2 separate regions of the Homo sapiens genome follow, and region 1 is linked to region 2. Evidence: fine-mapped expression QTL. A gene starts in region 2. The other region holds a variant in brackets. All regions are shown on one strand. Distances are between the middles of the regions.

Region 1 (5,383 bases), 120 kb after region 2:
TAATTATTACATGTAAGTATCAAGCTATTAAAATAAATTTTAGAAATATTGATCAAGAAAAATAATGAGAATACCAATTACCTACATCACTAGAAATGAACAAGGGAGGCCGGGCACGGTGGCTCACACCTATAATCCCAGCACTTTGGGAGGCCGAGGCGGGCAGATCACGAGGTCAGGAGATCGAGACCACCCTGGCTAACACGGTGAAACCCCGTCTCTACTAAAAATACAAAAAATTAGCCAGGCGTGGTTGTGGGCACCTGTAGTCCCAGCTACTCGAGAGACTGAGGCAGAAGAATGGCGTGAGCCCGGGAGGTGAAGCTTGCAGTAAGCCGAGATCGTGCCACTGCACTCCAGCCTGGGTAACAGAGCGAGACTCCGTCTCAAAAAAAAAAAAAGAAACGAACAAGGGAACATCACTACAGATACTATAGATAACAGGATTAAACAGATAATACAAAATATTATGAACAACTTTGTGCCAACAAATAACTTAGATAAAATGGACAAAGCCCTTGAAAGCCACAATTTACCAAAATTGAAACAAAGAGAAAGTCTGAATATTCCTCTGCTAAAGAAATACACTTCATAACTTAAACATTTCTACAAAGAAAACTCCAGACCCAACTGGCTTCACTGGTAAATTCTTGCAAATATTTAAGGAAAAAAAAATGGCTGGGCACAGTGGCTCACACCTTTAATCCCAGCACTTTGGGAGGCTGAGGCAGGCAGATCACCTGAAGTCAGTAGCTCAAGACCAGCCTGGCCAACATAGTGAAATCTGTATCTACTAAAAATACAAAAAATTAGCCAGGCATGGTGGTGCATACCTGTAATCCCAGTTACTTTGGAGGCTGAGACAGGAGAATCGCTTGGACCCAAGAGGCTGAGGTTGCAGTGAGCTGAGATCACACCACTGCACTTCAGCCTGGGTGACAGAACTAGACTGTCTCAAAAAAACAAAAACAAAACAACAACAACAACAAATCCCACTTTTAAAATTAATAATCCATCATGCCTGTAATCCCAGCACTTTGGGAGGCCAAGGCGGGCGGATCACAAGGTCAGGCTATCATGGTGAAACCCCATCTCTACTAAAAATACAAAAAATTAGCCGGGCATGGTGGTGGGCGCCTGTAGTCCCAGCTACTCCGGAGGCTGAGGCGAGAGAATGGCGTGAACCCAGGAGGCAGAGCTTGCAGTGAGCCGAGATCGCACCACTGCACTCCAGCCTGGGCTACAGAGTGAGACTCCTTCTCAAAAAAAAAAGAAAAAAGAAAAAAAGAAAAATAAATAAATAAAATTAATAATCGAGTAAATAAATAGACATGGAAGTTGGTTCTGTTCCAATCCTCAACCCCTCTGTAGTCATGCCAAAGATCACCCCAATATCTTTCCATCCCAGAAAGCTAATACTTCCCTTCCTTCTCAAAAGGGATGAAACAATGGACTTACAAAAAAACATTTTTGTAAGATTCATTTATATGTGTCCATTTGTAATCAACTAAAATTCATTACTCCCATCTGGCTTTCAGTTCCCTGACCAAATCGTATTTCCTACTCTCTCCCATACCTACTCTCTGCTATGGCCAGGTCAGTTTCTTCAGAATTGCCCCAACAAACCTTGCTCACTCCTACCTCTCTTTCATGGGTTATCCTAATCCCTTCCACCCTTCTCAACACTCCTCAAATCTAAGTCACCACTGGAAACTTCATATAAGCCACAAGGTTTTACCTTTATCAGAACTTCTAAACTTTTATCTGGAATTTTATAGTTAGACACAAACGATTCTCTCAGTGGGTTTCTTTTATCCCCTTGGGGAGACTGTCATTTCCCTCCAGCTGCCATGTGCCTGCTTAAAATCCCTTCCTGATTCTCTGTGACCAACAGGGTAATGACCAAGTTATTTCCTGGTACTTTACAATCTGGCCTCAGCTCTCCCCACTCCCCCACATTGAGGCCATTCCCAACTCAACATACCCACACAGCAGCCTCTGCCACGGCTCCTGCTTTTACACATTTGTATCCAGGGCCTGGACCATCCTCTCCCAGACACCTGGACACCCTGACCCCTATCTTCCTGCTCATGCTTGAAGACTCTCAGATTTAAAGTAACTGCCTCCCTAGGGAATCCCTCTTTGAAATACCACCTCCCCGCTTTTTTCCTCAGACAGATACTCTTTTTCCTACAGGATCTTGTACTTTTATTATAGTTGTTTATCTGCCTTTCAGAAATGACTGTGGTTATTTGAGAACAGAGTCTTGTTTATTTTTTGCTTCAAGACTTAGCACAGTACTTGGCTCATCTGAACAGGACTCTGTGAATGCTTGCTGAGTGAGCAGCTGTCCAATACTCCCCTGAGAGCCCCATGGTGATGGACATGTGACAGGAATTCAAAGGCTTAGAGACTGGCACATGCTAGTTGCATGATATTGTGGTAGGTACTCATTTAACCCTAATACACATGGTGAGGATGGAAACACAAAGCTGCCATTGCCTTTTAAT[T/C]CTCAGGGCAATAATGAGTTTCAGGGAAACAAAGCCTTCAACCCCAATCTTTCCAGAACTTCAAAAACCTGATGAGAAGGAAGTACTTTTCACCAGAGAAAGAAAAGTATTTTATAGCAGCAGAAGAAAAAAAGCTCAAGGCAAAAAAAAAGCTAATGAAAGAACATCCAAACTGCTCTTTCAATTGTTTCTGTGTCTGTATGCCTGGCAGCAATCAAATTACTTCTAAAGCAACTTCAAGCTCTGAAATTGTTATTCTGTGATAAAAGTATTATTATTAAAGAACAATAATTTACGTAATTTACCCTATTTTAGCATAGTTTACCAGAGTTTGCAGTACATCAATGTTAATTTAAATACCTTGAAATCTATAATTTTAATGTTGACAGACCTTAATAAAATGCATATGAATCCTCATTTTTAAACAAATATTTGTGTAACACCTATAATATGCCAATCATTCCAATGAACATTGGGGTATAACAATGAATAAAACGATTTCTGCTCTTGACAAATTTGGTATTTGAACAGAAAGAAGCATATGAAAAACACTAACAAGCCAGCCATCATGTTAAAATTATTAAATGGATGATGATGGCTCAAAATATAGCAGATGCTCTCTTACCAATGTTTACCTAAAGGACCCCACCCATTTACCCCATATCCTCCATTCTTTTTCTAAACCATACTGATCATTGTCCAGAACTTGGGTTGTAGGCTCTTTTGCAATATATGTATGTACTGCTTCTCCCCCAAGTAGTGTACTTAAGAAGAGTCAGTGGTGTTTGTTCCCAAACCTGTTTATGCCAGTTGTACTTGTTACTAGAATTATGAAACTTAATTCGATATTACATAAACTAATAAAATAGGAGTGCCAAACGAGAGAGTTTTTTCCTTTCTTTGAAAACCAGGTTGATTACTTTGGAGAGTCTTAACAAAAATGAGTCACTTGAGAAAATAGTTGCAAAAGTAAGTACGGGCAAATTTAAAGGTTTAAGGGGAGTGGGGTAGGTGATATAAAGGGATTCTGCCCAGAGATTGGTTCCCAATGCCTTTAGGTTTTCATTCTACTTTAATGTAAGAATCTGAAGCTGAAAATCAGAAGCCAATGAATTTTGGCTGTGATTTAATGTAAGAAAGACTTCTAGGAACTCCAATCAGGTCCTTGCACTCAAAGCAAAGGCCTTGACTCTACAATAAAATATCAGCAAATTAATGTTTAAAGTTAAACAAAATGTTTAGGCTACATAAGTGGCACGTTTTATGATTGATCCCTTTGGCATTTTCAATAAACCATCCAGCTGCTTGGTCCTGGATGTAGCAGATAAGGGTTTTCTCGGAGAAGCCAGGTGGTTTGGTCAACAGCTTTCGGTAGAGCAAAAATATAATAAAGAATTAATGACTTCCTGTTTGTCACAAACAGTACTCCGTGGTATTCGACTATGAGGTTTACTCAAAATGTCGGTTTGTGTCCCGATATTAAAAGGGAGCTCTCTCCAAGATCCAAGGGTGGGCTCCTTACTAGATCTTTAGACTCAGAGGGAGGGAAGCTAGCATATTCTGGGATCACTTCCTGCCCAGTTATTCAGCAGGATTCCATTCCTTTTTGTCTCCCACTGCATCTGAATTCCTGAGCAAGCTTCCAGAACCAAGCATTGCATGTATGGGTCTTCAGCGTGCTTCTTTCTGAGTGCAGCCTCTGAGGGTGGCTTGAGCCTGGATGTCGGGGAAGAAAGGGATTTAAGGAAAAGAGGTCAGGAGAAGCCAAAGCTGGAAGTGTTAAAGAGGGAGAACATTATAGCTTCCTCCACCAGTTCCCTTGGAGAAGAGCCAATCATACTGGAAGCATGCACATCGAAGATGCCAGCATTTAACCCAACTACAGGTGACACTTCTGATGCTGGCTTCATGCATTCAAGTAGTGTTTAGACCATCAGGGAGCTGTTTTCTCGTGGTTTTCAAGCATAACATTACTCTCTCATTTCTTTTTTTCTAAATTACATATTGGTTGACCTGTAAAGACCCAAAGAAATAATTTCATCAAATTCTTTTATTTTATAGTCAACTAAAATTATGAAGAGAAAATGATTTACCCACGATCACACAGCAAACTAGTGGGCAAGCTGGGGCAGGCACCAGGGCCTCTCTGCTTAACAGCCTTCTTTGCTTCCTGGCTCCAGGAACCAGAAGCATGAGCACCCACTGGGAGCTTGTTACAAATGCAGAAACTCAGGCCCCACCCAGGCCCACTGAATCAGACACTGCTTTTTTAACAAGATCGCTAGATGATCTGTACACATATTAAAAAGAACTGCTCTAGACCAAAATTTTTTATAATGCTATTTAGTGAAATTATTGACATTTAAATACATAATCCTTATAAAAACTTCCTTACCACAAAATGGGTTGAAACAATTATTTCAATATTTTGTTGTATCTGATCATTTCGTATACAGTTTCCATTTAAAATGATAGGCAATTGGCCACTCACAGTGGCTCACGCCTGTAATCCCAGCACTTTGGGAAGCAGAGGAGGGAGGATCACTTGAGGCCAGGAGTTTGAGACCAGTTTGGGCACCATAGAAATACCCTATCTCTACAAAAAAAAAAAAAAAAAAAAAACTGTAAAGCTTAATCGGGCATGGTGACACATGCCTGTAGTCCCAGCTACTTGGGAGGCTGAGGTGGGACGACTGCTTCAGCCCAGGAGTTCCAGGCCACAGTGAGTTATTACATCAGGCCACTGCAGTACAGCATGGACAGAGTGAGACCCTGTCTCCAAAAGATAAATAAATAAAAATAAAACAATTATAGGCAAAGAAACAAAATCCGCATTTCTCTCTGGATACATAAGCCATATTAAAGCAGCTTGG
Region 2 (5,383 bases):
ATGTACTAGCAACCTGTAGATCTGTTATTAAATAAGATTTAATTGACATAAAATAATAGCAGTCCATAAGACTAAGTGATAAGATACACAGTTGTGTAGTAATGATTTTATATTGGTTATATGACCTTTGCTTCCTTTCAGAGAGAAATTTAAAAAAGGGATTTTTTTGCAAAGACCAAAACGGTTTTATCTGCCATGGTTGAATACCACATTAATAAAAATTAAAAGTATGTACTAAGTAAAATCATCATTTTAGGATAAAATCGTGATAGGCTTCCTTGGGACAATGCTATTACATTATCATACCCCGACAACATGCAATCAACTTAGTCTCTAGTCATCATGGAAAAAACTTTGATCTCACTTCTTCATCTTGATAAATATTCCCAAGAGCTTCTCTTATAGCTATTTGGTCATTGATGAAGATTTTTTTTTTTTAAAGACACACAAGAAAATACAGGCTGGGTTTTTGGTGGGGAGGTGTAGATTTGGTAAGAGGATTGAACTAAACAAACGATTTTAAAATTAAGGTGCTATGTACTTAATGCCACTGAATCGTATACTTAAAATGGTAAATTTTATGTTATGTGTATTGTGTGATACCTAAAAAAATTAATTTAAAAAGTAAAATTGCTCTGTTTAGGATAAAATATTATTGTGTACCAAAGAAATTTTATATAAAAACAAGCAGTCTTTACCCCAGCATACTGTGAAGCTGAAGTACATGTAATTGCCGTTTTTGTAGGTTTAAAATGGTTGACTATCAGCAATTTCATATGGTTCAGCCTGTATCTTTATAAATAAAACGAAGTTTTGTCCCCGTACTGGCGAATTACTCTTTAGTGACTATCAGTGGACGCAAGGGCTGTGAGAAATAACCTTAGCATGATGGCTTTTTATATTAGAGCCACTGCGGTTACAGAATATGTTTTTGGGCATTTATGACAGTCTATGACTTTGAGTGAGGGAAAATTACAATGCAGTGAGATCCATTAACCTAACAGTGGCTGAGCCGATTCTATGGGACATCAAACTTGAAATCAGTCATTATTTAGAAAAAAGAGATTAATTTTAGTTCCTTTCTGCCATTTTCTTACTGCAAAAACACTTTATTCTCCAAAAAACCATTCTGTATATGAAAATTGTGGTACGTTCTAAGATTCTCTTTAAGAAATAGGACCTTTATCAATTTTCTTCCCCCCAGTCTCCAAGTCATAATTAGCAGAAGATCCCCCGCCCTGCCTTTCCATCAGCACTGGGTGACAGAGCTGATGTCCCCTCTCTGAAGCTCCAACTGTAAATGATTATTACATGTCGTAGTCAGGGCCTGATACAAGAAAGAGCAATCATATTAGAATAAGAAAATTAGAGAATGCCCAAATCACTACAGCATTAGCGGAACCAAAGCAGAATTAACATGCATGCCCCTCCAGTTCCTCCTCAGCATTAGCAGAAAACTACACATTCCACGTTCCTGGAATATAACATGCAGGACACAAGACCTAAGTTACGATTAATTATATTAATAAAAAAAGACAGTTTCCCCAATGCATCAGCCCAAGGTGACAAACTATAGACATCCCTCTATGAAATATCACGTCGGTAGAAAGATTTGGAACAGGAATGGATTGAAGAAAGGCTGCTCTATTAACTTAACATCAGCCCACAGGAAAAAAATCAACCCTGAAAGCAAGACCATGCCATAGGGATTGTCTCAGAGCCATTTTAAAAGAGAGACAAAACCCAGCTAACCCTTTTTAAGCACCCCCCAGTGAAAAGCTTTAAACAGGCTATTGTCAGAGCGCTGGGTACCTTTTCTCTCTTGGCTTTGTTCAGTATTTTCCTCGGCTGCAGTTTCCATGGCTGGCTTCATACCATCCACCAAAAATGCTTTTCCCCCTGTTCCCCCCAACACACACTTGTTTTTCCTCCTCTTCCTTTTCTTTTGGACTCCCCTCCGTCTCTTATTTACACCCGTCTGATTGAGAGGCTCTGTTCTTCACTACAGTAGATTACAGTCCCTTCCAAGATGCAAAAGTCTTGTCAGCGTCAATTTCGCTCTGCCTACTGGTCCATAAAGACAGCTGCCAAGGGGCAGGCAGCCATACGTCACCGAGGATCCCAGTTAGAAAACAGCCATTCGGCGCCCGGTGGTGCCTACAGTCTCAATGCGGCTCCAGTGGGAGTTGGGGGTAGGGGGGTGGGGGAGAAGGACCTGCTCCCCACCGGGCTCTTCCTCCTTGCTCTCTTTCTTAAGATCTCAATCTCGATCTCTCTCTCTCTCTCTCTTTCTCCCCACCTCATTTCTTCTAGCCAAGTACACCCAATGAATGCTAATTAATTCTCCCAGGAAAAAATAGATTTGTGACATCAGAGGAGGGGATGTGAAGGAGAAAGAAAAGAGCCCCCTCCCACCACGTGACTTTGTTGGTCGACAGCAATATATGTCGTCTCTAAGGAGAATGCATGTCTTTGCATAGGCATGACACTTTCTTTCCTGTGTGGTCCATTTATGATGTATCAGTTTATTTCATTTACCCCTCGACCCTGGCAAAACATATTCAAAGGACGTGCCCATAGTCTCTATTTACTTTCTTAAATATTTGTCTTTCATACAATTTCTAGATAAGTACATTGCTTTTTAAAAATATAAATTAAAGAGGGGGAGAAAATACATTAGAGGGAAGAAAACTCAAACACGGATTTAACGATAGCAATGTAGCAATTTGTTATTAGAACCCACTCCCTTGTCTATAGTTAATATATATGATAGTAAGAGAAACTCAAGCCTAATTTGTAAAAAGGCACCCTTCCTTATTTAAAAATAAGCATAACATGTTCACAAGTATATCGAGCTGACATTTTGGTAGTTTCTTGGAATGAAAATCAAAATAGTTTTTTAATCGGATATGGTTATTTCTACATGGAGTTTTACTCATTAGAATTCCTCACTCCAAATCGAAGGGGTGTTTTCAAGAGCTCTCTAAATATTCAACATAAAGGCTAGTATACCAATAATGATTTGCCTTCTTGCATACCCAGATACCATGAGGCCAACATTCTCAACCCATACCAACATATAAGCCTTTATCATGATTATGAGCCATGTTTCCAAGCATCACTAATTTCTGCACCATTTTTTATGCATTTGGCTGACCAACTGGCCTTCGCCGTCCCTATAAAAAATTAGAGAGACTCAAGTCAAATACAGGGATGACCACTGATAGGATTCCCAGATCATGAATAGTCTGCTAGTTGGTTGGGCTTAACACTTATCTTGGAAGCAAACATAAAGACAAGTTGGAGACCACCCTCTCCTAAAATCACTCTCCTAAGTTTTGATGGTTTCTTGCTCAACTCCTTGAAAAAAAAGTATAAGGTACTGAATCAAAATCTTCTAAAAACCTGATCTTTTAATACCTTGGTTTTAGATAATCCCTCAAACCTTCTTATATTTAGAACTTCTAGATGTGTTACAGTCGAGAAGATTTTGAAAACCAGTTTAGCTTGTTTCAACGTTTAATTTTACATCTTGCTTTTCCCTTTACCATTGTCTTAGAAGACCACGCCCACAATCAAATATGTATTCCCTCAAATTAAGGCCCCAGCCAATTTTATTGTCTCCTGGTCAGGGGATTGAGAAGTATGGCAGCCTAAAACCACAGACTTTAGAAAAAAGATTCGTTTGTGATATAATTATTTCCATGGGAAAACCCTATGGTGTGTCCGGATAGGACAGTCTTAGACATTTTTTGCAAAGACTACTTAGGTCCATTCAAATATAGAAAGGTGGCAAGTGTTGGTATGTAACAGGCTTGCTTTCCCAGCAGTTCAAATGAGAATTAAAACCAAAACAAAATTCAATTCAGCACAAAAGAGGACACTGTGATTAGCTGTTATTGGTTTTTAAAGTGTCCAGCAAAAACATCTGATTATAGAACCAGCAGATCCTAATAATTTTTTGGCTGTTGCTTAAGAATATTATTTTAATAGTGATGCTGGTGAAAAGGCAGAATATGAAAGACATTCTTAATTTAAGAACAACTCTAGTTCTATATCGAGATCAAAACCATTAGACAAAATATTCACACATCCTCCAGTTGATACCTGCATCTACTTTCCACCTGAAAAACTACATGGAAATGAGCAATTCATCACTTTTGCCTGATTCACAACTTCATCATTTTCTTTTCACTAGGATAATGTATTACAATTCTAGAAATTACCATTATATCACTTTATAACAGCCTCAAGATCTCACTGATGTTTATGATAAACCATTTGAAAAACAATTGTCAAGAGGAAGAGAGAAGAGTATTGCTTATTACATTTCTGAGATATGCATCCATTTTTGGCCAGAAAAGTTCTATATGTAGAAGTAGGATGGAAAATGTCTTCCAGAGCTGAAAATATTTCTTTGAGCCCCATGCTCTAAGGCAGTCTGGTTGAAGGTAAGAACACTTCTGAAAGCCAAAACAGGAATACAAAATACTGAACAAAACAGATTAGAATAAACATATGAAATTGCTGATATTGACCAAGAAGAACAGCAGTTTCACGTGGTTTGACTTATATGTTTGTAAGTCTTCTGTATAATTGCAGCCAGCTCAGTAAACATGCATGAAGTAACCTCCCTAGTGCCAACATCTACAAGCAGCACAGACATGCACAAGTGACGATGCCTGTCTCCAGGTAACCCACGGCTAATGGGACACAGAAAACTCTTCTAAAACAGGGTGCTCCTGCCTGCCACAAGCACTATGGCATCACAACAAAGAAAATGGATGGAGGGGGAAGAGAATTTGAAAAAAGCTTTGCAGAGTTGAGTTGGCTATTGCAGTAATGCTTAGAAACCTGCTGGGTAGGGTAGGGAAGGGAAAAGCAGGAAAGAGGAACGGAAAGAGTTCTAGGAAAAACTGAAGGGCATATGAGAGGAAAAAGAGGGTACTGTCAAAGGGTCAGGAAGTGATTTTTCTGACAGAGGGACTGAAGGGAGATGGCTGAGCCAGTAGGTTGGGAACCAGGTAGGTTGAACACCTTGCTAGCCCTAGAGGCAGTAGGTAGAGATAGAAGGCTCAAGAGCAGAGCTGATCGTGCTTTACAAAGGTCATTCTATTGGTAACGTGGAAGACAGGGTGGGTGGAGTATGAGACTAGAGGCTGGCAAACTAGTCAGGAGTCTCCTGCAACAGTACCAGTAAGAGATAGTGTGAACCTGAACTATGGCACGGGGAGGAAGTGAGGACCCAGATGTCATTGGATTGGATCTGTATGAGTAGGGGTGGAGGAGGATTTGAAGGGGAGGCTAGAGTTTCTAGCTTGGGTGAGTGAGGAGATGGTCATGCTGGGAACCAATATGGGGAACCAAAGAGAAGGAAGAAGTT

Alleles and levels. Positions count from the first base shown, and alleles are read on the strand shown. Sizes are in standard deviations (SD) of each study's normalised expression.
For the expression in sun-exposed skin of the gene that starts at base 2,062 in region 2, allele C in region 1 goes with a higher level than allele T (small effect, 0.17 SD a copy in GTEx).

Evidence for each region. PIP is the estimated chance that this variant, and not a neighbour inherited with it, causes the effect.
Region 1: its variant is fine-mapped to the expression of GPM6B in sun-exposed skin (GTEx, PIP 0.96).

What each region holds. Positions count from the first base shown.
Region 1 is chrX:13,930,226-13,935,608 of GRCh38, forward strand. It overlaps a transcript of GPM6B not described here. Among named protein-coding and RNA genes, the nearest start is that of GEMIN8, 97 kb to the right of the region's middle. The variant T/C (reference allele first, on the strand shown) is at 2,511.
Region 2 is chrX:13,815,032-13,820,414 of GRCh38, forward strand. GPM6B (glycoprotein M6B) reads right to left here and starts at 2,062. Exons shown (of 8, transcript NM_001001995.3): 1 at 1,813-2,062. The coding sequence starts at 1,873.